Homo sapiens: one gene and its partners. The protein of the gene in region 4 interacts with the protein of the main gene of each other region in a biochemical or structural test. Each region holds a gene or a part of one and is shown on either strand. Other genes may lie near its edges.

Evidence for each region.
Region 1: of the proteins of SIRT1 (region 4) and SREBF1, one has a biochemical effect on the other in vitro, tested with the Homo sapiens proteins (2 studies listed by BioGRID, with this or other methods).
Region 2: the proteins of SIRT1 (region 4) and VDR form a complex in vitro, tested with the Homo sapiens proteins (one study listed by BioGRID).
Region 3: the proteins of SIRT1 (region 4) and RARA form a complex in vitro, tested with the Homo sapiens proteins (one study listed by BioGRID and IntAct).

Annotation. Positions count from the first base shown.
Region 1 is NC_000017.11:17,826,981-17,834,012, forward strand, and holds part of SREBF1 (sterol regulatory element-binding protein 1), read right to left. Parts: intron 1-7,032.
Region 2 is NC_000012.12:47,901,978-47,909,859, forward strand, and holds the start of VDR (vitamin D3 receptor), read right to left. Parts: upstream 3,018-7,882; 5' UTR 2,978-3,017; exon of another isoform or gene 2,654-2,977; coding exon of another isoform or gene 2,587-2,653; intron 1-2,586.
Region 3 is NC_000017.11:40,354,166-40,358,161, reverse strand, and holds the end of RARA (retinoic acid receptor alpha), read right to left. Parts: intron 3,861-3,996; coding exon 3,656-3,860; intron 2,900-3,655; coding exon 2,741-2,899; intron 2,154-2,740; coding exon 1,936-2,153; 3' UTR 519-1,935; downstream 1-518. UniProt on the Homo sapiens protein: Receptor for retinoic acid. Retinoic acid receptors bind as heterodimers to their target response elements in response to their ligands, all-trans or 9-cis retinoic acid, and regulate gene expression in various biological processes.
Region 4 is NC_000010.11:67,908,624-67,915,655, reverse strand, and holds part of SIRT1 (NAD-dependent protein deacetylase sirtuin-1), read right to left. Parts: intron 6,401-7,032; coding exon 6,214-6,400; intron 3,183-6,213; coding exon 2,625-3,182; intron 1-2,624. UniProt on the Homo sapiens protein: NAD-dependent protein deacetylase that links transcriptional regulation directly to intracellular energetics and participates in the coordination of several separated cellular functions such as cell cycle, response to DNA damage, metabolism, apoptosis and autophagy.

The DNA of each region.
Region 1 (7,032 bases), on a different chromosome or scaffold from region 4:
TGTGCCAATCCTGTGCCAGGCACTGGGGCCATTATAGATGAGGTGGTCAGGGCAGCCCATCTTAGGAGGTGACATCTGAAAGGAGGACTGAATGATATGAGGGAGTGGGCCGGAAGGGAGGGCAGAAGAAACAGTGTGTGCAAAGGCCCTGCAGTGGGCGTGGGCAGGATAGGAGGAGCGGAGGCAGTGAGGGGGTGGAGGCCAGGACGGCCACCAAGGAGCTGGGATTCCAACTCAGGTTGGTCTGTCATCTGAGCCAAGGACCCCAATTCTCCAGGGAATGGGTGGGAAAGGGATTTGCCAATTGATCCCTGCACTACAGACCACAAAGCTGCACCAACTGTGAAGAAGGGTCAGCCACAGGGGAGGATGTGGCACAGGTGCTCATGGGATTCCAGAGCACACCCTCTCGGCCTGCTAATGGAGGCAGCAGGGTGAGGATGGGTGCCCACCATCCCTCCAGGGAGCTGGGCTGCACCCCACCTGCTGTTCTGCTCCCACCAGGCACTTCCTTGATCCTCCTAACTGGAGTCGGCGGTCCTCGTGTTCTCAGCTGGTCGTGTATCCAGCAGTGGCACAGGCTGCCCTTTGTGCACTCATGGCTGCCCCGGGGGCACAAGTGTGTGCCAGCTCTTCCCGGAATGGGACGCACCCATGGCTGGAGCCCCAGGTGCACCTGGGCGCAGGTCCTCTTGAGGAAACTAAGGCTCAGACGGAGGCCTCGTGCCCAAAGTCCCACAGCTGCCATATGAAGAATCTGGTACACAAACCCCATTCTGCGGCCCCAGAGCCTGCCCTTCAGCCCCAGCCTGTGGGGGACAGCAGTGAGCCCCAACTCCGGCCTGCCTCTGCCCTGACCAGCTATCCTCATTTGTCGCAGTTCAGTGAGTGTGTGCAGAGTGCAAAGACAGAGAGGACAACACGAAGCTCTTTAAGGCTCAGCTCCGGCACTGCCTCCTCCTGGAGGCTTCCTAACCACCACCCCCCCAGACCTATCCACCTGCCCTGCCAAATTAGAGGCTGGGCCTCAGCTGGGGGCCCCTCCTGTCAGGGCCTGAACCAGCTGTGACCCCAGCCTCACCCAGCACAGGGCTGACCACAGCAGGGACCCCAGTCAGAGGCCGTGCAGACTCCAGCCATGGCTTCCTCCACCCTCGTCTGCCTCCACCCCCATCCCCTAACTGGTGTCTCCCTGGGCCTCCCTTTCCCTGCCTGCTTTCTGAACACCACAAGCTATTGAAGGCCAGGCTGTTCCCTCCACCAGGAATGCCCTTTCCACCTGGTGAATTCCTATTCCTCCATCAAAACTTGCTCTGATGCCACCTCCCATTCTTCCCTTGTCTGTGCCCCTCCACATGCCAGCTCCCAACATACTGACCGTCTGACCCTATAAACCTCAGAGCCACGTTTCCTCCTCCCCACTAGGCTCTTCCCGGAGCTACAGGTGTGCGGAATTACCCTCAGCAGCACCTGCGAGATGGCAATTACATGTGATGCTGGTCGGCACCAATTCAGACACCTTGTCCGAGAGGTGGCCCAGGGCACATACTTATCACTGGCAGCTGAAAACAACCCACGGGCCTGATGCAGTGGCAATTCTGGGAGTAGCCCCTGCTGCTGGGCACCTGTTTTCAGTCAAAATGGCAGTGCTAAGGTTAGGCGCAGGGGCTCACACCTGTAATAACAGCACTTTGGGAGGCAAAGGCAGGCAGATCACTTGAGCCCAGGAGTTCAAGACCAGCCTGGGCAATGTAGCAAGGCCCCATCTCTACAAAGTTTTAAAAATAGCTGGGCATGGTGGCATGAGCCTGTAGTCTCCATTACTCTGGAGGCTGAGGTGGGAGGATCCCTTGAACCCGGGAGTTCAACATTGCAGCGAGCTGTGATTGTGCCATGGTATTCCAGCCTGGGTGACAGAGCAAGACCCCGTCTCTAAAAACAAACTGGCTCACGCCTGTAATCCCAACACTTTGGGAGGCTAAGGCAGGCAGATCACGAGGTCAGGAGATCAAAACCATCCTGGCCAACATGGTGAAATCCAGCCTCTACTAAAAATACAAAAATTAGCTGGGCGTGGTGGTATGTGCCTATAGTCCCAGCTGCTTGGGAGGCTGACGCAGGAGAATCATTTGAACCCAGGAGGCGGAGGTTGCAGTGAGCCGAGATTGTACCACTGCACTCCAGCCTGGTGACAGAACGAGACTCCATCTTAAAAAAAAAAAAAAATATATATATATATATATATATATATATATGTATACACACACACACACACACTCACACATACACACACACACACATATATATATATATTTCTCCCTCTTGAGTTGTTTCTCTGCAGCTTGTTTTAAAGCTCATATGAAGGCAGCAAGATGTTTTCGAGCTGCCAGGCTCCAGTCTGGAAAAGATAAAGCCCTTTACAACCTTCCCTACAACGTATTCCCTTTCCTTCTAGCATCACCGGCACTGGGTGATGGTCATTGTCTTTTATGTACTTTTGGTGGCTTTGCTTAGTCCCAAGGCTGTGACCAGAACTTTGAAGGTGCTTTCACTCACATTTCCAAGGCTGCCTTGATGTGTTTTGCACAGAAACCGCCATCTGTGGCCAGATGGCCACTCTGCCCGTCCTCCCCCAGCCAGAAACACTGCTTCCTCAGCAGGTTCTTTTTGTTTGTTTGTTTTGAGACAGGGCCTCACTATGTTGCCCAGGCTGGAGTGTAGTGGTATGATCATGGCTCACTGCAGCCTCAACCTCCTGGGCTCAAGCAATCCTCCAGCTTTAGCCTCAGCCTCCTGAGTAGCTGGGACGACAGGCACACTCCACCATGCCAAGCTAATTTTTTTAGTTTGGGTCTCACAATGTTGCCCAGGCTGGTCTTGAACTCCCAGACTCAAGCGATCCCCCTGCCTCAGCCTCCCAAAGTGCTGGGATTACAGGCGTGAGCCACTGTGCCCAGCATCAATTATCTTCCATGGAAGCCAAGGATAGGGTGCTTGTTCCCCATGGCGGGGGGTGCTCCCCACTGGCCTAGTCAGCCCCATCCTGTCTCTCACCAACTCCAGACCACCACATGGTAGATGCTCAGAACTTGGAACCATAGCCTGGTACATCCTAGAAACTTCCAGCACAGGCTCCTTGGGTAATTGCTGCTAACATTTGTTGAGCTAAACCTATCGCGTGCCAGGTACTGGTTAGGTGCTCTAAATGGTGATTTGTTTGTTTTCTCTAAAACAAACAGGGCCTTGCTATGTTGCCCAGGCTGGTCTTGAACTCCTGGTCTCAAGCAATCCTCCAACCTCAGCCTCTAAAGTCAATAAGATTATAGGCGTGAGCCACTGCATCTGGCTAAATGGTGATAATAATAACACTAACTGGCATTGGTTCAGGGCCTACTATGTGCCATGCACTGCTTAAGCCTTCACTCATCGGATCCCCACAATTCCAAGAAGCTGCTTTTAGTACTGCTCCCTTTACATTGTTAAGAACCTGAAGGTTCTTGGACTTGTCCAAGGTCATACAGTAGGGCTGCTTGTTAAGACCCCTGATCCCAGCCTTCTAGCTGCAGGGAGCACAGGGACCCCAGAGCCTGGCAGGGGCAGCATGCAGAGGCAAGGCCTGCTGGGAGACAGGTGCAGGGACGGGGAGTCAGTTAGGAAAGGAGCTCAAACAGGGTTCGGGGTAGGCCACAAATTCCCCCTAGGGGGATGGACCCCCAGCCCCGTCCCACCTCCCACAAGCCCCAACCCAGCAGGGGACCCACACCTGGAGCCAGTCTCAATGGCTCCCTGACCTCTCACCCCTGAGCCAGTTAAGGCTTTCCCCACCTCACCCCCGACACACACAGCCGCCCCTGTGGAGCACATGGTGCAGGCTGTCACACACTGTCAGTGCCCAGGGTCAAAAGGCATGTCCACATGGCCCGTGGCTGCTAGGAGACAAGGTCAGAGGCACTTCCTCTGGCCGGCCTGGGCTCCACCTGTCAGCAGGCAAAGTCCAGATCCCAGGCCTCTGCTGGCAGTGACTCCTGCCTGGAGCTGACCGGGTCACTCAGGATGTTTGTGTCCAGCTAGGTGAATGTTGGGCAGAAGGTAACTCCCAACCCGGCTGAGACAAGGGAACTTTATCTTGGAGCACTAGGGAGCCATGAATGGTTGGAGACCAGGGGAGTTCTGTGCTGTAAGCTAGGGCAGTAACTAGTCTAGAGCTGTGTTTTCTAAGGAGTGCCAGTGCTTGGTGGAACTAGGGAGAGAACTGGGGCATGAGATATCCTGGGGAGAGGTATGGGGTGGCAGAGCGGGCCCCCATTGTGCCCTACCAGGGCTGGCCTGGACCCAGCAAACAGCCAGACACATGACTAGAAGCAAGGCCCTGTTGTGGCTGGGCTGGGCATGCTGGGAGGGACATCAGGGCGGGAGAACTCTGAGAACGCACTGCTCGGGGCAAGGTGACACCCAGAAGGGCTTTCTGGGAAGCAGCCTCTGACGGGGCTTGGCAGACATCTGGGGTCCGACAGACAAAGAGCAGACATGACGGGGTCCAGGCATAGGAAAGAGACCCCGAGGCCCTGTTCCAGGCTCTTGGCCAGAACTCTGTTTCCGTCTGCCTCTTCTGCACTCATAAGCTTGTGCAAAATTGGATAAATTAATCCTCAGCAGGGAGGTGAAGACTGCCACGGGCTTAACAATAATCCCCAACACAGGTACAGGGCCATCTCCTGATCCATCCTCCCCCGACAGCTGCAAGGTACTCTGAGGCCCAGAAGGAGACAGGCTCACCTGAGGTCTTGGTGCAGATGCAGGACTCAAACCCAGGGACACTATAGCCAGGGCAGTGCCTTCACCCACAGATGCAAGGACTCATGGAGGCAGCTCCATCCCCAAATCCATTCACATGACAAGAGTTTGGCTGTGGCAGGCAGCAGGACCGGATGGGGCCCAAGGCCCTTGGCTGGCTCACCAGGGCTGGTTCCCAGTCTAATGACTCAAACACTGCTCTGGACTGGGATGGGGAGGTAGCCACATAGCCTCTGACCCCTCTGTGACCCACTTCCAGGCCCCCAGAGTAGCCCCTGTGGAGGAGCCTCCCTCAACCCCTCATCCCCATTCTTAGGAGCCCAGTGCTTAAGAGCTTAAGAGCTAGGCTCTGGAGCCCACAGCCTGGGTTTGAATTCTGGCTTTGCCATCATCTGGCTGTGTGATCTCAGGCAAATCACTTAACCTCTCTGGTCCTCAAGGCCGTCATCTTCATCATATGTCTACCTACTTGGGGTTGTCAGGGGATTAAGTGGGATTATCAACACACTGTCTGAAACACAGTAAGTACTCAATTAGTGTTTTCTGTTCACATTACGATCCTCCATCCAAGCAGCCAGAGGGAACTGAAGCTCGGTGTGCCCCTGCTCTGACCCCCGACTGTCCTCACATCTAGCCCAGCTCTGCACTCTGGCACTCAAGGCCAGCCTGGCCCCCTCTTATCCCTCATGTCTCTCAAGGGACCTGGCATTTCCACCCCCAAATCTTCAGACCTTATCAAACCTGCTCAGCTCCACTCCTGGTAGAAGAAGCTTCAAAAGCAGGCTCGACCTCTGACCAGCAATTCCCCTCCCAGAACCTCATCCTAGGAACACAGTGAGGATCCGGGCAAAGACTGGCCTCAGTGGCCAGGCACAGTGGCTCACGCCTGTAATCCCAGCACTTTGGGAGGCCGAGGCGGGCAGATCATGAGGTCAGGAGATCGAGACCATCCTGGCTAACACGGTGAAACCCCGTCTCTACTAAAAATACAAAAAATTAGCCAGGCATGGTGGCACGCACCTATAGTCCCAAGCTACTCGGGAGGCTGAGGCAGGAGAATGGTGTGAACCCGGGAGGCGGAGTTTGCAGTGAGCCGAGATCGCGCCACTGCACTCCAGCCTGGGTGACAGAGCAAGACTCTGTCTCAAAAACAAACAAACAAAAAAAAAAAAACAAAGAAAAAAACCGGCCTCAGTGTCCACTGCAGCAGTTTATAAAGATAAAACAACCTAGGTGTCCATCGACAGGGAATCAGGTGGGTAATAAGAGGAAACCTTACTGTCGTCTGGCTGTTGACATGGAACCAAGCAGATTCCAATCAGCTGTGAACCAATGGACCCTATTTTAATTTATAAAAATACAGATCCAGCCGGGCGCGGTGGCTCACGCCTGTAATTCCAGAACGTTGGGAGGCCGAGGTGGGCAGATCACAAGGTCAGGAGATCGAGACCATCCTGGCTAACATGGTGAAACCCCATCTCTACTAAAAATACAAAAAAATTAGCCGGGCGTGGTGGCAGGTGCCTGTAATCCCAGCTACTCGGGAGGCTGAGGCAGAACTGTTTGAACCTGGGAGGCGGAGCTTGCAGTGAGCCAAGATCGCACCACTGCACTCCAGCCTGGGCGACAGAGCAAGACTCCGTCTCAAAAAAAAAAAAAAAAAAAAAAAAAAAAAAATATATATATATATATATATATATACACACACACATACAGATCCACAGCTGCCCGGGGCTGGGAGCAGGAACAGGAACTGACTAAAGAAGTATAAGGGATCTCACTGTGTGATAAAAATGTTCGACAGCTAGTAATTGTCACACAACTCAAAAAGTTAACTAAAAATCATTGAATGATATACTAAAAATGGGTAAATTTTGTGATACATAAAGTATACCTCAATAAAGTCGTTTTTAAAAAATTGATGAAGGCCGGGCATGGTGGTTCATGCCCTGTAATCCCAGCACTTTTGAGAGGCTGAGGTGGGCAGATCACCTGAGCTCAGGAGTTCGAGACCAGCCTGGCCAACATGGCCATCTCTACTAAAAATACAAAATTTAACCAGGCGTGGCGGTGCATGACTGTAATCCCAGCTACTTGGGAGCTGGAGAATCTCTTGAACCTGAGAGGCAGAGTTTGCAGTGAGCTGAGATCATGCCACTGGACTACAGCATGGGCAAAAGAGCGAGACCCTGTCTCAAAAAAAAAAAAGTTTATGAAGAGTGTGCACCCATCCCCAAA
Region 2 (7,882 bases), on a different chromosome or scaffold from region 4:
CAGGGAGCAGGCTAGGGTGTCGGGGGCTGTCCTCAGAATTAAGCTACCCCTGTTTTCCCTTGAGCATTAAGCCTCCCCCAACCTTATCATCCCCTCATCACTGCTGTGACCTCTGCTGAGTTTGGAGTGATGATCACTAGGGTGATTAATATTCCATTTTTCCCTGGAAAGTTTGGGTTTATGTCCATTGTCCTGGTATAACCATGCATGGCATCCCCTTTCACTCTCAGAAGTATCCCAGTTTGCAAGATACATTACACAGGCACTCTTTCTAGCATATCTAGGAGGGCACTGACACAGGAAAAGGTTAGGGACAAATCAGAGGGAAGCAAAATGACAAGCAAGGCCTTGGTGGCCCAGAGTGGCAGCCAGGCTGGCTTCAGCCCAGCTGGATCCTCTCAGAACTGGACAATAGTGGAGGGAGAGCCTGAGAACTGCTGCCCACCCTGGGGCTCAAACTGTCTTGGAGTCAGGGGCCTGGTCTGGTGGGTTCTGCTTCCTGCTATCCCTCAGAGGGCCTGGAGTCATGCTGGGCACACAAGAGGCTCTTAATCAAATCTGGTCAATTCCTTATTTCCCTCTACCTGCATCCAAAACAGAATTGCAGCAGGGACAAATGGAAGCTGGAGCCCTGTAATTCTTTATTCAGCAACACACCAAATGTCATCTAGGTGGTCCTCCCGTCTCTGGCTCTCTGGCCCCTAGGACCTGACTGCTGCACAGGCAACAGCGAGTTTCTAGCAGAGGTTCCAGATGCCTATTCCAGCCAGGACAGCGGTGCCTCCTTAGGATGTGGGGTAAGGAATGAAACAATGGGAACTCCCTTTCGTGTCTTAGATAACCACCTGATGTAGTAGCCACCTGATGTAGCCCACTCGGTCCCAGGCCTTTCTCCATTCACAGCCTGGGCTTTGGACACCTGCTATCTGTTCTGGGGGTAGAGTGTAGGGGTTCAGGAGGTCCTCTCGGAGCTTCCTCTGGGGCTTAGTTACAAAAGAGATCAGTTTTGAGGTCAAATAGGGGAAGAATACTGAGAAACCATAAACACAAACTATCAGGGCACCCCAAACAGCACCCGACCTTCCATAATGTTTATACAAACAAAGTCTGATGGCCTCTGCCGAAGAGGAGTAAAGGGTTGGGAAGGCTTTCTAACTCTCATTTTTTCCCCTCCTTTCTTACCCCATTTTCTAGTCCCTCCTTTAGCTTGGTAAGGGTCCAAGTCACAGCTGATCAAGACCAGCCAAACCCAAAGCCATGGGACCCAGCCAGAGCATAGACTGTGAATTCCCCAGCTTTTTGCAGTTTGAGTCAGCCCCACAGCTGGATTGGCCTCCCAGGACTCTTCTCAAATAGGTCCAGAGAGGCTGCTGAGTGGGGGCCACGGACTCTGCAGGGAGGGCTACTTCTGTTCAACGATCTCTAGCACCCAAAACAAAAGCCAGGGAGAAATGTGCAGTCTTACTACCTTCTGGTCTGGCTGCATGCCAGCCCTGAGACTGTTTCAGAAAGACTCACAGTTCCCTCCAGCACTTGGACAGGGAAGGGACGGCAGGTCTCTCAACACACAACACTCTTAGTCCATAGAATTGAGGCTCCAATGTTCAGATAACCCATTTCTACCTCAGCAAATCACCCTCACTCCCTAGCCTGAGTTAAAGCCTTCTTTGCCAACACCATGACTTCTCTGGCCCCAGACTTTCCTAATTTCTTTTGCTCACCCCCTTCACTAGCAGAGATGGGCTGCTAATGAGACCACTAGGCAGAAATGGAAGGAAGGGCTGGAAAAGCCTGCAGTGCTGGGATGCACCTCCTTATCCCAGGAGAAAGATGAGATGTAGATTTATCATAAAGCCACTATCCCTTCACGGTCACCTCCTGCTAGAATCATCTCATAGCCATTCCATAAGCACTGCTGTGTTGGGTATCTGAGCCCCTGCCCATGAGGAAGACCACCTTCCAGCAGGGAGCTGGAGCAGAGCTGAACTCTGCCCAGGAGAGCTTCTGCAATGCTCAGAAAATGCCTGCCCAACTGCTTGCCTGGGCTCTGGCCCCTTTGGCTGCAACTGAGCCCAGACAGGAGGCTGACTCACTCACCGCACGCATAGAGGAGGAGGAGGAACAAGAGGAGGAGGAGGAGGAGGAGGAGAAGGAGGAGGAACTGTGAGAAGGGTCTGGGCTTGGAGACCTAAGGCTCCCCCAGCCCAGGCTAGGTCTCAGACTCTGGTCCCTGGGTGAAGAGAAGGAGGGGCAGTTGTACACTGGCCCTGGAGACCACAGGCTGTTCCCTCCTAGATACTTCTGAATCTTCCTCACCACCACCCACAGATCCAGGGCACCTCACTTTTCAAACAGAAACTACTCCTTGAGCCCCTTCCTCATTTAAATGCTTGCCCCTGAGTTCCTCTGAACATCTATTGACAGGCTGTCCTGAAAAAAAATAGGGCCAATTAGGTCTAAACTCATTGGTAGTTCAAAGAAAAGTAAAAAAAAAAAAAAAAAAAAAAAAATTACTTAAAAGACCCAACTCCACCATCACAGGTGACCATACCTGGGCCCTGTAAGACAATAAATAAGGTTACACACCCTCCACTCCAGCAGTTCTGAGCACCATCGACAGCCAATCGCTCCTTTTCTTATTCCTCCACTCCATGCCAAGGCGCCCCGACAGAAGAAGGAAACAAATACTTCTTGTTGCCCAAGTGCTAAGCACTGTGTTAGCGGAGCATTTCTCCTAAGCGCCGAGGATGTCGCTGCTCCCCTCGCCAGCCTGGCACGAACTTCAGCTTTCTCAAACCTCAGTGCCCCTTAGTGTCCCAGCCTCATGGCACGACAGCCCGGACCTCAGTAGCCAAGTTTACCGCTGAGACTTAGACTCTAATGCTCGCAGCCGGGCGCTCAGGCCCCGGTATCCCAGACGCCCCGACCCCGAGTCCCTATCCTGAGACCCCCTTTCCCGCTGCTCCCGGGTTCGCACCTGGTCCGGCCGGCGGGTGGACAAGCTGTTCCGCGCTCCCGGCGCACACGGCTCCGCTGCCGCCTTTTGACAAGCAGAGACAGCCCAGCACCTGGCCCCGCCTCTCGGTCAGGCCCCGCCCCGGCCCCGCCCCGCCCCTCCGCCCCGCCCACAGGTCCAGTCCTCTCTTGCCAGGAGCTCCGTTGGCGCTGCAACCATCTTGACTTGGAATCAACCACCCTATAGGCCACGCTGTAGCCTTAGATACTCTAACTCGTGAAATTTTCATCGACCGTCGTCCATAGGGCAAGGCACGCTTCTGCCCTCTGTGGGACAGAGTTGTCGATGATTATAGGTGCGGATACCCGCTTCAGCCTGTGTTAATCGGGGATGCAGCCCCCCACCCTTCCTGCCGTGGTTCTACCCAGCCTGCTGCGGACGCCTGAGCCAGGTGCGTCACCCCCACCTGGGCTGACCAGGCCAGGACTTCGTCGTCCGCGGGACGCTGGGGGGCGCCTGCCGACTGGCACCGGCGGCTAGCTCCGCACGAATGGGAAATCCCGGGCTCCGCTCGCCAACCTGTTACTGCTGCAGAACGCCAGGAAGCTCAGCCTGATCCCACAGATTAGGGTAAAATATCCCGGGGGGCCGAAGTGGAAACCGGAGTTGCGTCATTGCTCCCACCCGATATCACCTTGGCAGCGACCGCGGCTGACCACGTTCCCGGCCTGTCGCGAATCTCACCCAAGGGAGCTGAGTCTCAGCTTCCCTGGTCCCTGGTCCCGAGTTCCGCCTTCCCCCCCCGCCCCGTGGCATCGGCGTGAGGGGAAAAGATAAAGACTACCTCCTGAGACCTGGAATTGTGGATGGCTGCGGAAAACTCACCACAGGAAATTTTGGCTTAAAGTTATTCTCTGCTTCCCTTGACTGTGTGATAGGCACCGCTCTATCTGCTAGAGGACAGGTGAAAAAGATGGGGTTCCCTCTTCTTAGAACTCACTGTGCAGTGGGAGAATGTATAAATAAATAGTAATTACAACATAATCTTCTGGAATAGAAATGCTCACAAAATCATCCAGCAGTCGATGACCTCCTTTAGCCAGGGAAGATATTGCTATTCGCCTCTTACAGAGGAGGAAACCATGGCTCAGAGGGACAAGGTGAAAGGGTGGGAAATTGAGGCATAGAAAGTTTAAGTGATATGCCCAACATGACTCAGCTAATCAATGAAGGACTAGTGCTAGAGCCCAGCAAATCTGCTGGTGCAATGGTCTCTGAACCATTTCTGAGACAGCTATGCTGGACTACATCATAACCAGCCCCTCACAACTCAATAATAGGGTTAAAAGAAATAGACTGAGATTAAATAGAAGGAAGAACCTTCCAACAGTGAAGTTTGTTAAGCACTGCAACAGTTCATTATGGAGGTATCATGGCAACTTTCTGGGAAGACTTAAACAAAAGACAGAAGAGAGGCATAGCGTTTGATTGAACTTGGGAATGGACCATTTATTCTGAGAAACAGATGAAGTGCCCCTTTAGAGGTCCTGCCAGTCTGATGGATGGATTCTCTACCTGTAATGAAAGTAATAGGAAGGATCCCCTTGCCCAAAGCATCGTGGGAAAGCTAGCGGTGATTCTTGTGGGAAGAAAAGCATAAGAGGAAATTTCCAACCACCAATACCTTGGGACATTCTCTGCAAGTCCCATGAGCCTCTGAAAGAGGTTGAACACTCAGAAGTCACTTTTGTGGTGCTTGACTGGCCTGACATCTTGCAAATAAACCTTATCAAAAGATGGTGGAAGATGCGTACTAAGTATTCCGTAGTAACTGAGAGTTAGTCTTTTTTCACAGCCTTTGTTGGAGGAGAGGTACTTGTAATTCACATGTGTAAACTGCTTTATAATTTAAAAATTCTTTGGAATATCTTACTTGATCTTTATCATAGCCTTTTCAGACATGAAGAGTAAAAAATACCGTTCCATTGTACAACTGATGTGCAGAGTTGTCAAGGTTTCTACAGCTGAGGAGTGTCAGAGCTACTGGACCCAGATCTTCTCTCTGCACATCCCACTGTTTCATGCTGCCTCTAAAAAACAAAAAAAAAATTTCCATGCATGCACTTTTCACAGAGTTGAAGAACTCAGAGGTTCTGCGTTTGGCAGATGGGCAAGATTATAGATGTCATCACGGTCCCCAGCACATGCCGTCATCAGCCCCGTCACCTTGTCTGTAACCATGTTCTTCCCATATTCCCCCAATACCTGAACTGTTCTCTCTCATCCACCTCTCCAGACCCTCTCCTCTTTCAGGTCCTGCCTATTCCATCAGGCTTTTCCAACATCTCCAGGAAAGGAACTGTCAATTCTCTGGTCTTTGTAGCGCATGCATTTTCTATATTGCATGGTTTGGCACCTGCTAATGAACCATCTTGTATTTACATTGAACAAAGATAGATTTTTTTTTGCCTGTTTTATTCTTAGAAGGAAGGTTATTTTGTGAAAGTAGAAAAGCAACATCATATGAGATTCACTTCTCCTGTGTTCTGTTGTAATCCCTAATTGTCTCTGGACCCTACTTCTCCCTAGCCAGGTACACAACTGGAAAGGGAGGTTGCTGTCCCACACCGTGTTCTCTTGATGCCTCGATGACAAGCACCATTCCTGCACTACAGAGTTAATAGTTTTAAATTCCCCTATCTTGACTTCTCCATAAACCAGGTACCAGAACCTCTGCAGAAGACATTAATTTTTCTTTTCCCTGAAGTTAACATTTCTCATATTCTCACTTATCCCTGGGATGGGTAGTGGTCTTTATTGGGATGTACAGATTGTTTTTTGTCAGTACTCATCTCTGCCAAATTACATCAGGGAATATCTCGTAAGCACTTGCTTGGTTAATATTAGCCAAGTCTGGTGGTGTGCTAGATACTCTGCTATAGTGCTATAGACTCAAAAATCTATATAGAAACAAAAGAGCCCTTCCCGGTGCATCTGACTTTGATGGAAAGATTCCAGAGGTACTAGGCTGAGGATTTCGTTTCATTCATTTCATTCCTGTGCATTTCATTCCACAGAGTCCAAAGAAAGGCAGGGCCTGGTCTCTTGACCTCTCTGCCAGGCTCCAGGCACCTGGGGATGGCCTGGGCAGTTGTGGCTACAGTCAGGCCACAGGACTGCAGCCTGTCCTCATCTCTGGGCTTCCTTTTTCTGCAGCCTGGCCACTGTCCTCGAGGCTGGCTGATGCTCTCTGCACTTCTTGCTGTGGTGTCAGAGCTAGAGTGGGTCACTTTGTCCCTGTGAGTCTCCCAGAGACCCTGTCCCCATGGACAGAGGTTTTTTGAGCTGTCTAAAGGCTGCTCTGCAGGTAAAAATGTGCCCTTTGAGCTCTCTCTGGAACACTCCCATCTGACTGTTTGTTTTTCCCTTTTTTAGGGCCATTTTCCCCCCTTAAATATTTTATGGTTATGAGCACGGTAGGACTGAAGAGAAGCCTCTCTTCAGTAAACACCCAGAGAACATTCTGAGAGACATGAGCGTGGAGTTAGAAAGACAGAAGGGACCAGGCCATCTTTTCAGTTTGTTCCCTTGTTTTAGAGATTTTTTAAAAAACACACGTTAAGTTCAGAAAGATTAATTCATTTATATTTCCTAACCCAAGTTAAGACAAAAAGGATCAGGGATGACTCTCCTTATTTATGTTCCAGATGGTAAAAATAGAATGAATAAATGTAAGAAGCTGTAGCAATGAAAGCAAACCAAGGGGTCTTCCCAGGACAGTATTTTTCAAAATTTTAACTGCAACCCATAATAAGAAATAAGTTTTTACTGTGACCTAGTTTACTCAGGAATATATATAAGTTCCTGATACAAAAGATGTTCTACAATGTTTTCTATTATTTTCTCTATCCTCTTTTCCTTCCTTCCTCCCTCCCTCCTTCCCTCTTTCATTCCTTTTTCTTCCTTTCTCTCTTTCTTTCTTCCTTCCTTCCTGCCTTCCTTCCTTTCTTTCTTTCCTTGCTTTTCCCTTCCTTCCTTCCTTCCTTTCCTTTCTTTTCCTTCCTTCTTTCCTTCCTTCCTTTCCTTTTGGGATCCACCAAATTTATTTCACAGCCCATTAATGGGTTGTGACCCAAAATACAGTATTAAAAATCCTACCCTACACAGTGGCTCAGGCCTGTAATCCCAGTACTTTAGGAAGTTGAGGTGGAAGGATTACTTTGAGGCCAGGAGTTTGAGACCAGCCTGGACAACATAGTGAGACCCTATCTCTACAAAAAATTTAAAAATTATCCAGGCATTGTGGTGTGCGCTTGTAGTCCAAGCTGCTTGAGAGGCTGAAGTGGGAGGATCGCTTGAGCCTAGGAGGTCAAGGCTGCAGTGAGCTATGATCATGCCACTATGCTTGAGGCCTGGGAGGCAGAGTGAGACCCTGTCTCAAAAAAAAAAAAAAAAAAAAATCCTGCCCTAGATCATGGGCTAGGCGGACTTTATTGTTTGAGTAGCCAACTGACAGAAGACTCCATCCAGGGAGTTGATGGAATCTTGCCTTTCTGAATGACAGAACAAGTCCCTCTCACCATAGGACCCCCTCATTTAGAATCTGGAACATGAGATTCACAGAAATACATTTGCGAGACCATCAATGGCTTACAAGTAGCCCCCTCAGAACCCTGCAGGGGATACATGATGGTTTTGGTGATTCTACCTCCAAGGGTGCATGGTCAGGGTTAGGTCACTGAGGCAGAATGTATCCACCCAATGTTTGCTTTTGTGGCCTTTACTCAACTGATATATTACCACTCACAAGTATTTTCCAGGTTTGGGGGGTTCTTTTAGCCTCATGATGCCTATGGCATCTCAGAAATCTTGACTGCTCCAGAACAGAACAGAACAGCTCCAAGGAGTCCTGTGCAATGCCATGAG
Region 3 (3,996 bases), on a different chromosome or scaffold from region 4:
TCCTGACCTCAAGTGATCCGCCCACCTCAGCCTCCCAAAGTGCTGGAATTACAGGCATGAGCCACTGCGCCAGGCCTCTTGTTAGGTTTCTATGAGTCCCTGACCCCAGCTCCTGTGCCATCTGTCATTCCTGCCGTGATGGTGAAGGCTTCCCAAGGACCAGAAATGTCTAGGGGTGGCTCCGGCTTCCTCCCTCAGACTGGGGGTTCCCTGAAGGTGGGGGCAGCTTTCCTCCTCTTCTCTCCCACTCCCAGACTGGGGCTCCTTGACATGGGCAGTGTGGATCCCCAGACTGAGGGCTTCCCAAGGGGCAGGACTTTCTCCTTCTCAGCATCTCCAAAGACCCCAGCACAAGGTAAGCCTCAGAAGGCAGCTTGGAAGGGTGCCCTGGCCAGCCCCTTGGCCCCAGTGCTCATTCCTGGCCATCACAGGCCCAGAGCACATGACGAAACCCATCCCAAGCCCCCAGACCAGACGCCAAGAGGAGGGGGTGGAGGCAGCAAGGCTGGAGGCATGTGTAGAATAAATAGAACTTTATTCTTTATCCAGTAGATCTCAGTGGAAAGCCCAACAGTAACAGGTGCACCCACGGGCTCCAGGGGAAGGGGCCCCAACCCCTGGTGAAGGAGGTCGGGGCAGAGCCAGCTCCCCCAGCTGGGGGTGCAGGGGTGAGGGGAGACCCCCCTGTAGGCCCGTCCTGCGGGGTAAGGAGGGGGCACGGGGGTGGGACAGGTTGGGGGTGGGGGGCAGGCCAGGGAAATGGAGGAACTCGGGCCAAGTGTGTGTCGGCCCATCTACTGTCCAGTGTGTGTGTGTTTGTGTGTGTGCGCACGCGCATGTGTGTGGTGTCTGGGGGCCCTATGGGGGTGCTGGTGGCTGAGGCCGGGGGTGGGGGCAGCTCGGGCCCCTGGCCAGCCCCTTCACAGTGGGGGCTGGGGAGCCTAGATGATGTGGGCCCTGACGGGAGGCAGCTCTGCCGAGGAGCCAGGTCTGGGAAAACTCTGTCCCGGGGCCCTTGCTCTGCCCTGCTCCATGCCTCATGGTGGGTGCAGGCAAGTGCCAAGGCCAGGAGCCTGTCCTTTCAGGGCTGCCCCACACCGTCCACACCCAGTGGTCAGGCAGAGGGAGAAAGGGGCTGGCGGCTTCTCCAGTGGGAGGGAGGGGAAGGCAGGCCTTGGAAAGTTAGTACTTCACAGTTTTAAAGAGAAAACTGAGGAGGAAAAGGCTGAGGAGGAGAACTGGGGGGCACAGGGACATGAAAGGAGAGTGGGGGCCCCTTCCGAGCCACTCCCTCCCCCGGACCCACCCCCTCCAGCTCTGGATCCAGCTCCCCCCAATACACAGCACAAATTCCTTCAGTATAAATGTGCTTAAAATGAAAATTCTTATTAAAAAAATCAAAACAAAAAAATTAAAATAAAAACAAAACCAGCGAGAATTAATACCTGGGGTTGGTATGGCAGGGTATGTACAGGGGGAACCCCCCGCCCCTGTCCCACCCCCTCTGTCACCAACCGAGGCAGGGGGGAGGTTGAGGTTCCCCAGCTGGGGAGCAATGGCTTGTGAGTTCTGAGGATGGGGGAGCCAAGTCCTGGCGTTTGCTGGTGATGAAGATGTGGTGAGCTGGGCAGAGGGGTGTCTTGATGAACACGAGGCCCCCAGGACCCATCCTGAGACCCAGGACCAGGGGCCTCACTCAGTTCCTGGCCTCGGCCTCTGACGTCAGCCCAGGCTGTGGGAGCAGGCAGTCCACTGAGGGCCCAGGCCTCTGTCCAAGGAGTCGCTGCCTCCTCCCTCCCCGTCCCCCAGGGAAGGTCCCCAGTACTGCCCGGGAGGGCAGGTGGGGGCAGGGCTGGTGCGGGGTCACATGGTCGGTAGAAAGGCAGAGAAAAGCCGGGGCGGAGGGCGAGGGCTGTGTCCATGTGGCGTGGGCGGTCACGGGGAGTGGGTGGCCGGGCTGCTTCTGTTGGAGCTGGGGCTGAGGCTGGGGCTACAGCTGCCTGGCGGGGGGGCCAGGCCACCCCCGTCCCGCCCCCCACCCCCCGGCTGTCCGCTCAGAGTGTCCAGGCCCTCTGAGTTCTCCAACATTTCCTGGATGAGAGGCGGCATGGAGCCCGGGATCTCCATCTTCAGCGTGATCACCCGCTCAGCCCCTGCAGGAAAGGAGGGGGCAGAGGTCAGCACGCTGGGCCAGCCCTCCCACCCCCAGCCCCAGCAAGCCTGGCTCGAGGTGGGAAGATCAATACTGCTGATATTAGCATCTTTCTTGGGATTCAGTTCTTTGACACGAGCCAGCTCTCTTAAGCCCCCAGGTCCAGAGGCTGGTGGCAATGGGGCAAAGTGGTCCCGAACTCCGGCTCCAGGGCCAGACTGCCGGCCTGGGCTAGACGCCAAGCCCTTCCTTCCCCTGTGCTGTGTGCTAGGGATCATCCCGACCCCTCTGTAAACACGAATGTTATCCCCGCCCTCGGAAGGGAAACTGTAGCTAGGAGCTGTTGAGTGACCCACACAAGGACACACACCCACGTGTCTGGTTCCAGAGCCACGATCTGAACTACCACACAAAGGTGACACAGGCGGGCCACCTCGGCAAAGTGGAGTCACTAGGGGACCTCAGCCTAGACACAGATGGGGACAGGTGTCGTATTGTCCTGGCACAAAGACATGGGGTGCTGGCTTGGATGTGGGGGCCTGGGCCAGGTGTCGGGGGCCGGTACCCCTCCAGGTCTGTGAGCCTCACCCTTGGCGCTGATGCTTCGCAGGTCAGTAATCTTCATTAGCATCTTGGGGAACATGTGGGGGCGGCTGGGCCTCCGCTTCCGCACGTAGACCTTTAGCGCCTCCAGCAGCGGCTCCTGCAGCATGTCCACCCGGTCCGGCTGCTCCAGGTCCTGGCGGTCTGAGGAAGCAGAACCACCCCCTGAGCAGCTGGGAACACAGCTGCACCCCCAGCCTCGGCCACCGGGGGGCGTGCCTGCCCAGGCCATGGAGGAGGGCAGCTCGCAGGCGCCTCCCCACACAGGGCAGGGCATGGGGTCTCTGCTGCCGCAGGGTACAGAGGCCCTTAAAAGGGAGCAACGGGAGCTGAGGGTGAGGGGGTGCCCCAAACCCTCCCTGAGCCCAGTTAGTGGGATGGGACCCCAAATGGGCAGTGCCATCCTCAAGCAGGGAGAGGGTTCCCAGGCAGGCTCCCACTCCCCCCTGTTATTCTGGAAACCAGATGAAATGGCAGAAATCACAACAATAAAATAGCAACTAACAAGCACTGGAGCTCGCTCTGGGCACCTGCACAGTATCTGTTACCACCGTAATCCTCCCATCAACTTCATGAGCTAGAGACCGTTACCGCCCCCACTGTACAGAAACGGAGGCCCAGAGAAGTTCAGCAACCTGCTCAGGGTCATGCATCGGCCAGGAGGTGACCCTGGTTGGTCCGACCCTCAAACCCTCACTCTTAACCTCCCTAGAAGGGGTGTTGCCCAGAAATCGGGAACAGGAGTCCAGGCCCCACATGGCCCCCTTGCTGTGTAGTTGCAGACCAGACCCTGCCCTCTAGAGATACCTAACAGAGGTGGCCTGAAAGAGCTCCCTGGAAGAGACTCCAGGGCTGCACCCCCGTCCCAGCCCAGCCCCCAGACCCAGGCCCCCTGCCCACCTCCGCAGATGAGGCAGATGGCGCTGAGCAGCCCCGTCTCCGCATCATCCATCTCCAGGGGCAGCAGCTGGTTGGCGAAGGCAAAGACCAGGTCGGTGAGGGGGCCGAAGCCAGCGTTGTGCATCTGGGTCCGGTTCAGGGTCAGCCCGTCCGAGAAGGTCATGGTGTCCTGCTCGGGCGTGTACCGCGTGCAGATCCGCAGGATCTGGGTGCAGAGGATGCTTGGGTTCAGGGACTGAACCCGAACCCACTCTGAGCACTCGGCACCAGCACTCCGCACCAGCACTCCCGGAGGACCACCTGGCAGGTGGCCGGAGCAATGCTGTCTGATAGAATTTTCT
Region 4 (7,032 bases):
TTTGTCAATAATGTAGTCACCACAAATTCATAGTGTACTCTGTAGACACTGTGAATCTACAGTATCACCTGTGAACCTAAATTTACATTCACCCGAGATCTCAGGCCCCAAGACCCACCTACTGCTTCAGAATGTGTGTGTATATACACATACAGTCTAAGACGCTTTTGAAAACTCCTCTAAGATGTAATGTGAATCCATGAATACCAATGAAGTTCTTTCTACAGCACACCAAATCAATCCTAGCTTGGCCATTTGGGGTTTAAGTGAAAGAGTAGGATCCCTAAAAACTGATGGAAAAGTTTTCTATCCTTGAATTCACAGTATGTCCCTAACTTAACATCTCTTCACACATAATAGATGTAGTATTTATTGTACCGTATCCCAGACGAATTCTCAAAAGCCTGGTTACCACACTGGTAGGTGGCCTATCTCAAGTTCTCTCCAAAGTGGCTCTCGAACTTTTTCATACTGCATCATGACCCAGTTCTCACCCTGACTACAACCTGTGTGACAACTCTGACCTGAATCCCTAAAATTTCACAGTCCACTACAAATCACTGTGAAAACCACTTATTTCCCTCTATTACAACAGACACATAGTACTCATGAGTTTCCCAAGACACCACAGGCAGGGCACAGTGGCTTACACCTGTAATCCCAGCACTTTGGGAGGCCAAGGCTGGCAGACTGCTTGAGCCCAGGAGTTTGGTATCAGCCTGGGCAATGTGGCAAGACCTTGTTTCTACAAAAACTAAAAAAAAAAAAAAAAAAAATAGCTGAGCATGAGGGCATGCGCCTGTGGTCTCAGCTACAGCTACTCTGGAGAGTGAGGCAGGAGAATCGCTTGAACCCGGGAGGCGGAGGTTGCCGTGAACCGAGATCACACCATTGTACTTCAGCCTGGACAACAAGAGCAAAACTCCGTCTCAAAAAATAAATAAATTTAAAAAAAAATGACTGTTCCAGGTTAACTCTGTTTCCTGGGCAAAGAGATTGTCCGTTTGACACATCTGTCAAAATGACATTCAAGAAAAGTTCCCAGTGCAAGTCTTAGTGCATAGGTAGACTTTGTATACGCTAGAGACAACTGTGTATCTAAGTCAGTAGCAATTTTTCTACTTTCTGACTTCTGCCACGATTTGCAAACGTAAGCATCCCTCTATGCTTTTTCTAGTTTCCCCTGTGAACACGTCTGCTCTTTTTAAATCCCTACTTATTGTTAAATATTTTGCTCCTTAGAAAGCCTTCTGTAATCTAATCTCCAAGTAGAATCTACCTTTTGGGGCTGGGCGCCGTGGCTCACGCCTGTAATTCCAGCACTTTGGGAGGCCGAGGTGGATGGATCATGGGGTCAGGAGTTTGAGACCAGCCTGACCAACATGGCGAAACCCCGTCTCTACTAAAAATACAAGAATCAGCCGAGCAAGGTGGCGCATGCCTGTAATTTCAGCTACTCAGAAGGCTGAGGCAGGAGAATCTCTTGAACCTGGGACGCAGAGGTTGCAGTGAGCTGAGATCGTGCCACTGCACTCCAGCCTGGGCGACAGAGTGAGACTCCGTCACAAAAAAAAAAAAAAAAAAAAAAAAAAAAAATCTACCTTTTGTGTGATGTTTTGTTCAAAACAATAATAAAGTACTTTGTTCTTCAGCAGCACCTATACCAAAGTATTAATGAGTATCACTCACATTTATAATTATACACAACATTAATCACTGTGTCTCCATAACTTACCACAGTGCCTAATATGAAAAAGGCCAAAGGTTTATTCAACTGAACTAAAATGTATTTACAGCAAATGACTGGAATACTCAAATACAGTTGTCTAAAATTTGTCAGTTTTCGCCAAGTATGGTAAATGGAATGAGACTTAAAGTTCTAAGTTATATAAGACTGTTATAGCTAAGTTACAGTGGTTTTCTTTTTTTTAACATAAGTTAGGAATTTCCACCATACAGACTACTTGGACTTAAAACATCGGCTTCCAAAGAGTAGAAAGTGATTTCACATGTCAGTTAACACTTATTGATAAAGACTATGCATGTTCTAAACAGGGTAGAAACTATTCCTATATTCAGTGGAGAAGAATCACGCGTGTTTTTTCTAAGTCCTCAGAGAAAACAAAGATGTGTTCTACATCTGAGACAACACCGCATAGTAGTTAAGGGGGCAGGCTCTAAGCATAAATAGACTGGATTTTAATCTGGTTCTTCCACTTCTTAGTAGTTACTGTGCATGAGGTATTTAACCTCTATGGTCCTGAGTTTTCCCACCTGAAGAAGAGTAATAGTTCCTACCTCAGATTAAAATCAGGTAACATATGTAAAGCAGCTGACCTACAGTAAGCACTCAAATCTGTCATCATTTCTGCCAGCTAATAACCCATTCTTATTTTTCCATCCCCTAGAGAAACACAACATACAGAGCACTATTAAACACTTCCTTCTCCATATCATGTTAAGATACCAGAAGATTTACCTTTCTGATTACGAACTGTACAGTTTCTCTAAACAGAATCAACTACATAAAGCTACCCTATCGATTAACCTGCCGAAATAGCTAATTTTTTGGAAATACTGTTATGACATTTATACTTTCAAAATGGTCCGACTGCCTTTCTTACCATCAAGCCGCCTACTAATCTGCTCCTTTGCCACTCTATTAGGCCAGCATTTTCTCACTGTTCCAGCCACTGAAGTTCTTTCATTTTTCTCCCCAGTACTAGAACCAACATTCTTCAAATCCGGATTTTCCATCTGTTCAGCAATACTTTCAACATTCCTAGAAGTTTGTACTTCCTGTGGTTTTTCTTCCATACAACCTTTTGATTCAGACACATCTAAATCATCATTACTCTTAGCTGCTTGGTCTAAAAGTGTGACAATCACTGAAGAATCTGGTGGTGAAGTTCTTTCTGGTGAACTTGAGTCTTCTGAAACATGAAGAGGTGTGGGTGGCAACTCTGACAAATAAGCCAATTCTTTTTGTGTTCGTGGAGGTTTTTCAGTAATTTCTGAAAGCTTTACAGGGTTACAGCAAAGTTTGGCATATTCACCACCTAACCTATGACACAATTCATTAATTATGACATCACAGTCTCCAAGAAGCTCTACATCAAAATGCAGATGAGGCAAAGGTTCTCTATTAATTAATATCTGAGGCACTTCATGGGGTATGGAACCTAAAATAGGGTGAAAAATAAGAGTTAGAAAAAGGGAGGAGGAAGTAAGCTAATAAAACCACAACAGATACATTATGCAAAAATCCAACAAGGGCTTGAGCTCCAAATTCCCAAAAAAGACCCATGCACTAAATACTTAACCAAGCCATTACATTTCATCAAGCAAGCAGATGGGCAGTTAAGTGTCTTTTATAAAACGCTCAAGTTCTGCTCCTATCACCTGGTTACCCCTGAGCAATCTTCCCAGACTTTCCCACTCTGAACCTCAAATTTCCTTGTCTGCAGAATGGGGATGATAATAGTACTTCTCCACAAGACTGTGGTGAGGATTAAATGAGTTAGTCAAGTGCACAGAAGAGTTCTTGGTACATAAATGTTCTACTTAAGTAGCTCCTGATATAAAGAAGGTGAGCTGGGTACAGTGGCTCACGCCTGTAATCCCAGCACTTTGGGAGGCCGAGGCAGGCGGATCACCTGAGGTCAGGAGTTCAAGACCAACCCGACCAACATGGTGAAACCCCATCTCTACTAAAAACACAAAATTAGCCGGGCGTGTGGTAGCGCATGCCTCTAATCCCAACTACTTGGGAGGAGAACTGCTTGAACACGGGAGACTGCAGTGAGCCGAGATCATGCCATTGCACTCCAGCCTGGGCAATGAGGGAGGGAGGGAGGATAGGAGGGAGGGAGGGAGGGTGGGAGGAAGGAAGGACGGACAGATGAACGGAAGGAAGGACAGACAGAAGGATGGACGAAGGAAGGAAGGAAGAACGGACGGGAAGGATGGACAGAAGGAAGGACTAACAGAAGGAAGGATGAATGGAAGGAAGGACAAACGGAAGGGAGGGAGGGAGGGGAGGGGGGGAGGGAAAAAGTCATATAAACATATTCTACGCTATTATAAACCTGTTTCTTTTTTTAATTATCTTTGCAACACATCATACTATCCCACAGAAAGCTTTTGAAAGAAAAGTTTTTAAGGACCAGGCATGGTAGCTCATGCCTGTAATCCTAATGCTTTGAGAGGCAGAGGAGGAAGGATCACTTGAGGCCAGGAGTTTGTGACCAGCCTGGGCAACAAAGTGAATCCCGTTTCTACAAAAAAAAATTTAAAAATTTGCCAAGCATGGTGTGCGCCTCTGGTCCTAACTACTCAGGAAGCTGAAGTGGAAGGACTGCTTGTCCCCAGGAGTTGAAGGCTGCAGTGAGCTGAAACTGCACCACTGCACTCTAGCCTGAGCTACAGCAAGACACCCGTCTCTAAAAAATAAAAAGAAAAGCTTTTAAGCAGAGTGCCTTTGATTTTGCTTTAAGAAGAGCAACTCAAGAACAAAGAGATTTGTATATTAAATTTTCATGTTTCATTTAATTGCAAATTGTCTTGTATTCTACTTTAACAGAATTTCACAGCTAATTAGGTAAGACTGAGTTAACTGCTAAAGCCACGAGATATGGGATAGACACAAAATTGAAGAGCTTGACTCCATGTTTCTTCCAACTGTTTACTCTGGCTGCCTTGACTGCTGATGTGGGGTCTAATTCAATTCTCTGGCTAGGGATTTAATATTTTTCCTCTCCTCTTTCCCTCACTTATGAAAGGACACATCTGATGCAACTGAAATCTCTCTCTCTCCTCCTCTGATTCTAAACTAGAGGAGGAAACAGACAGTATGAGAATATATATGACAAAGAAATTTTCCTGAGAGTAATAAGGATTTAAATTTTATGTGAACACTTTTATATACACACCCTTTTGGGTAAACTATATCGACATATCACCGTTATGGCATGGCTGTTACTACAAGAATGAACCAATCATTCTGAGCCCCCAAATTCCATCTTACATGGTATGTTACACTTCTACCAAACTATACATTTGAATTTATTAAATGTGAAATCAATTAAATTTGAAAGATCAAAACTGTAATCAAAAAATATAAGGATAAAGGACCATTTCATAAATTAATTGATGCTAACCCTTGCAACATTAAAAACACATTCCACCAAAAAGTCTAAGTTGAACTCTACCTTTGTCTTAATTTTTCACATAAATTAGAAGTAGAGTTTAGCATTACTTCTGGGTTTGTTTTTGATTTTTTGAGACAGAGTCCCACTCTGTCACCCAGGCTGGAGTGCAGTGGCACATTCTCGGCTCATTGCAACCTCTGCCTCCTGAGTTCAAGCGATTCTCATGCCCCAACCTCCCAAGTAGCTGGGACTACATGTGCACACCACTATGCCCAGCTAATTTTTGTATTTTTAGTAGAGACAGGGTTTCACCATGTTGGCCAGGCTGGTCTCAAACTGCTGCCCTCAAGCGATCCACCTACCTCGGCCTCCCAAAGTGCTGAGATTACAGGCACGAGCCACCAACATTACTTGCGTTTTGACAACCCTCCACCCCCCATCAAAATGTCAGATTCACCAGTCTCAATGAACAATGCCACCTAAAAAAACAGTTCAGCCAGATGTGGAGGCTCGTGCCTGTAATCCTAGCTACTCAAGGGGCTGAGGCAGGAGGATCACTTGAGCCCAGGAGTTCGAATCCAGCCTGGGCAACACAACAAGACCTCATCTCTACTAAAAATAAAGAATTTCTGGCCAGGCATGGGGGCTCATGCCTGTAATCCCAGCACTTTAGAAGGCAGAGACAGGCGGATCACCTGAGCTGAGGAGTTCGAGACCAGCCTGGCCAACATGGTGAAACCCGGTCTATACTAAAAATACAAAAACTAGCCAGGCATGTTGGTGGACGCCTGTGATCCCAGCTACTCAGAAGGCTGAGGCAGAAGAATCGCTTGAACCCGGGAGGCGGAGGTTGCAGTGAGCCAAGATATGCGACTGCACTCCAGCCTGGGCAACAAGAGGGAAACTCCATCTCAATAAACAAACAAACAAACAATTTCTAAAATTAGCTCTTCACCACTCTTTCAAACAGAAGCAGAGTTAAGATTACTAGCGTCTATTATACAGACCCACAACCCATGACATTATATATAGAAATGTTCTCCAAAAACCATCACCAACTTACTTGGAATTAGTGCTACTGGTCTTACTTTGAGGGAAGACCCAATAACAATGAGGAGGTCAACTTCATCTTTGTCATACTTCATGGCTCTATGAAACTGTTCTGGTAAATTTTCACCAAAAAACACAATCTCTGGTTTCATGATAGCAAGCGGTTCATCAGCTGGGCACCTAGGACATCGAGGAACTACCTACATATTTTCAGATTTTGGTTGAGGTAGAGAAGCAAAGAGTAAGCCCAAGTTAGAAATAGTCAACATTTCCATACCTCTAAGAATACATTTCAGAATTATTAAAAAAAAAACAAAACAGAAAAGCTATGGATAAACAGCAACTGTCAATGATGGGTAGTTTATTAACATACTATGAAACAATGAAATACTATGCTCTTGTTATAATATCTATGTAGAAAAACACTTGACATTGAAGAGTCCATCATATATTAAGAGGAAAAACATAATGTGTGTATATACACTAAATGGGAATTGATCCTTTCAAAAAAAAATAGACATTTGTCAAATAAAATGATTCCATTTTATTTATTTGAGATGGAGTCTTGTTCTGTTGCCCAGCCTGGAGTGAAGTGGCATGATCTCAGCTCACTACAACCTCCACCTCCCGAGTTCAAATAATTCTCCTGCCTCAGCCTCCCAAGCAGCTGAGATTAAAGGCATATGCCACCATGCCAGGCTAATTTTTGTATTTTTAAGAGAGACGGGGTTTTGCCATGTTGGCCAGGCTGGTCTCACTTCTGACCTCAAATGATCGACCCACCTCGTCCTCCCAAAGTGCTGGGATTACAAGCATGAGCCACTGCACCCGA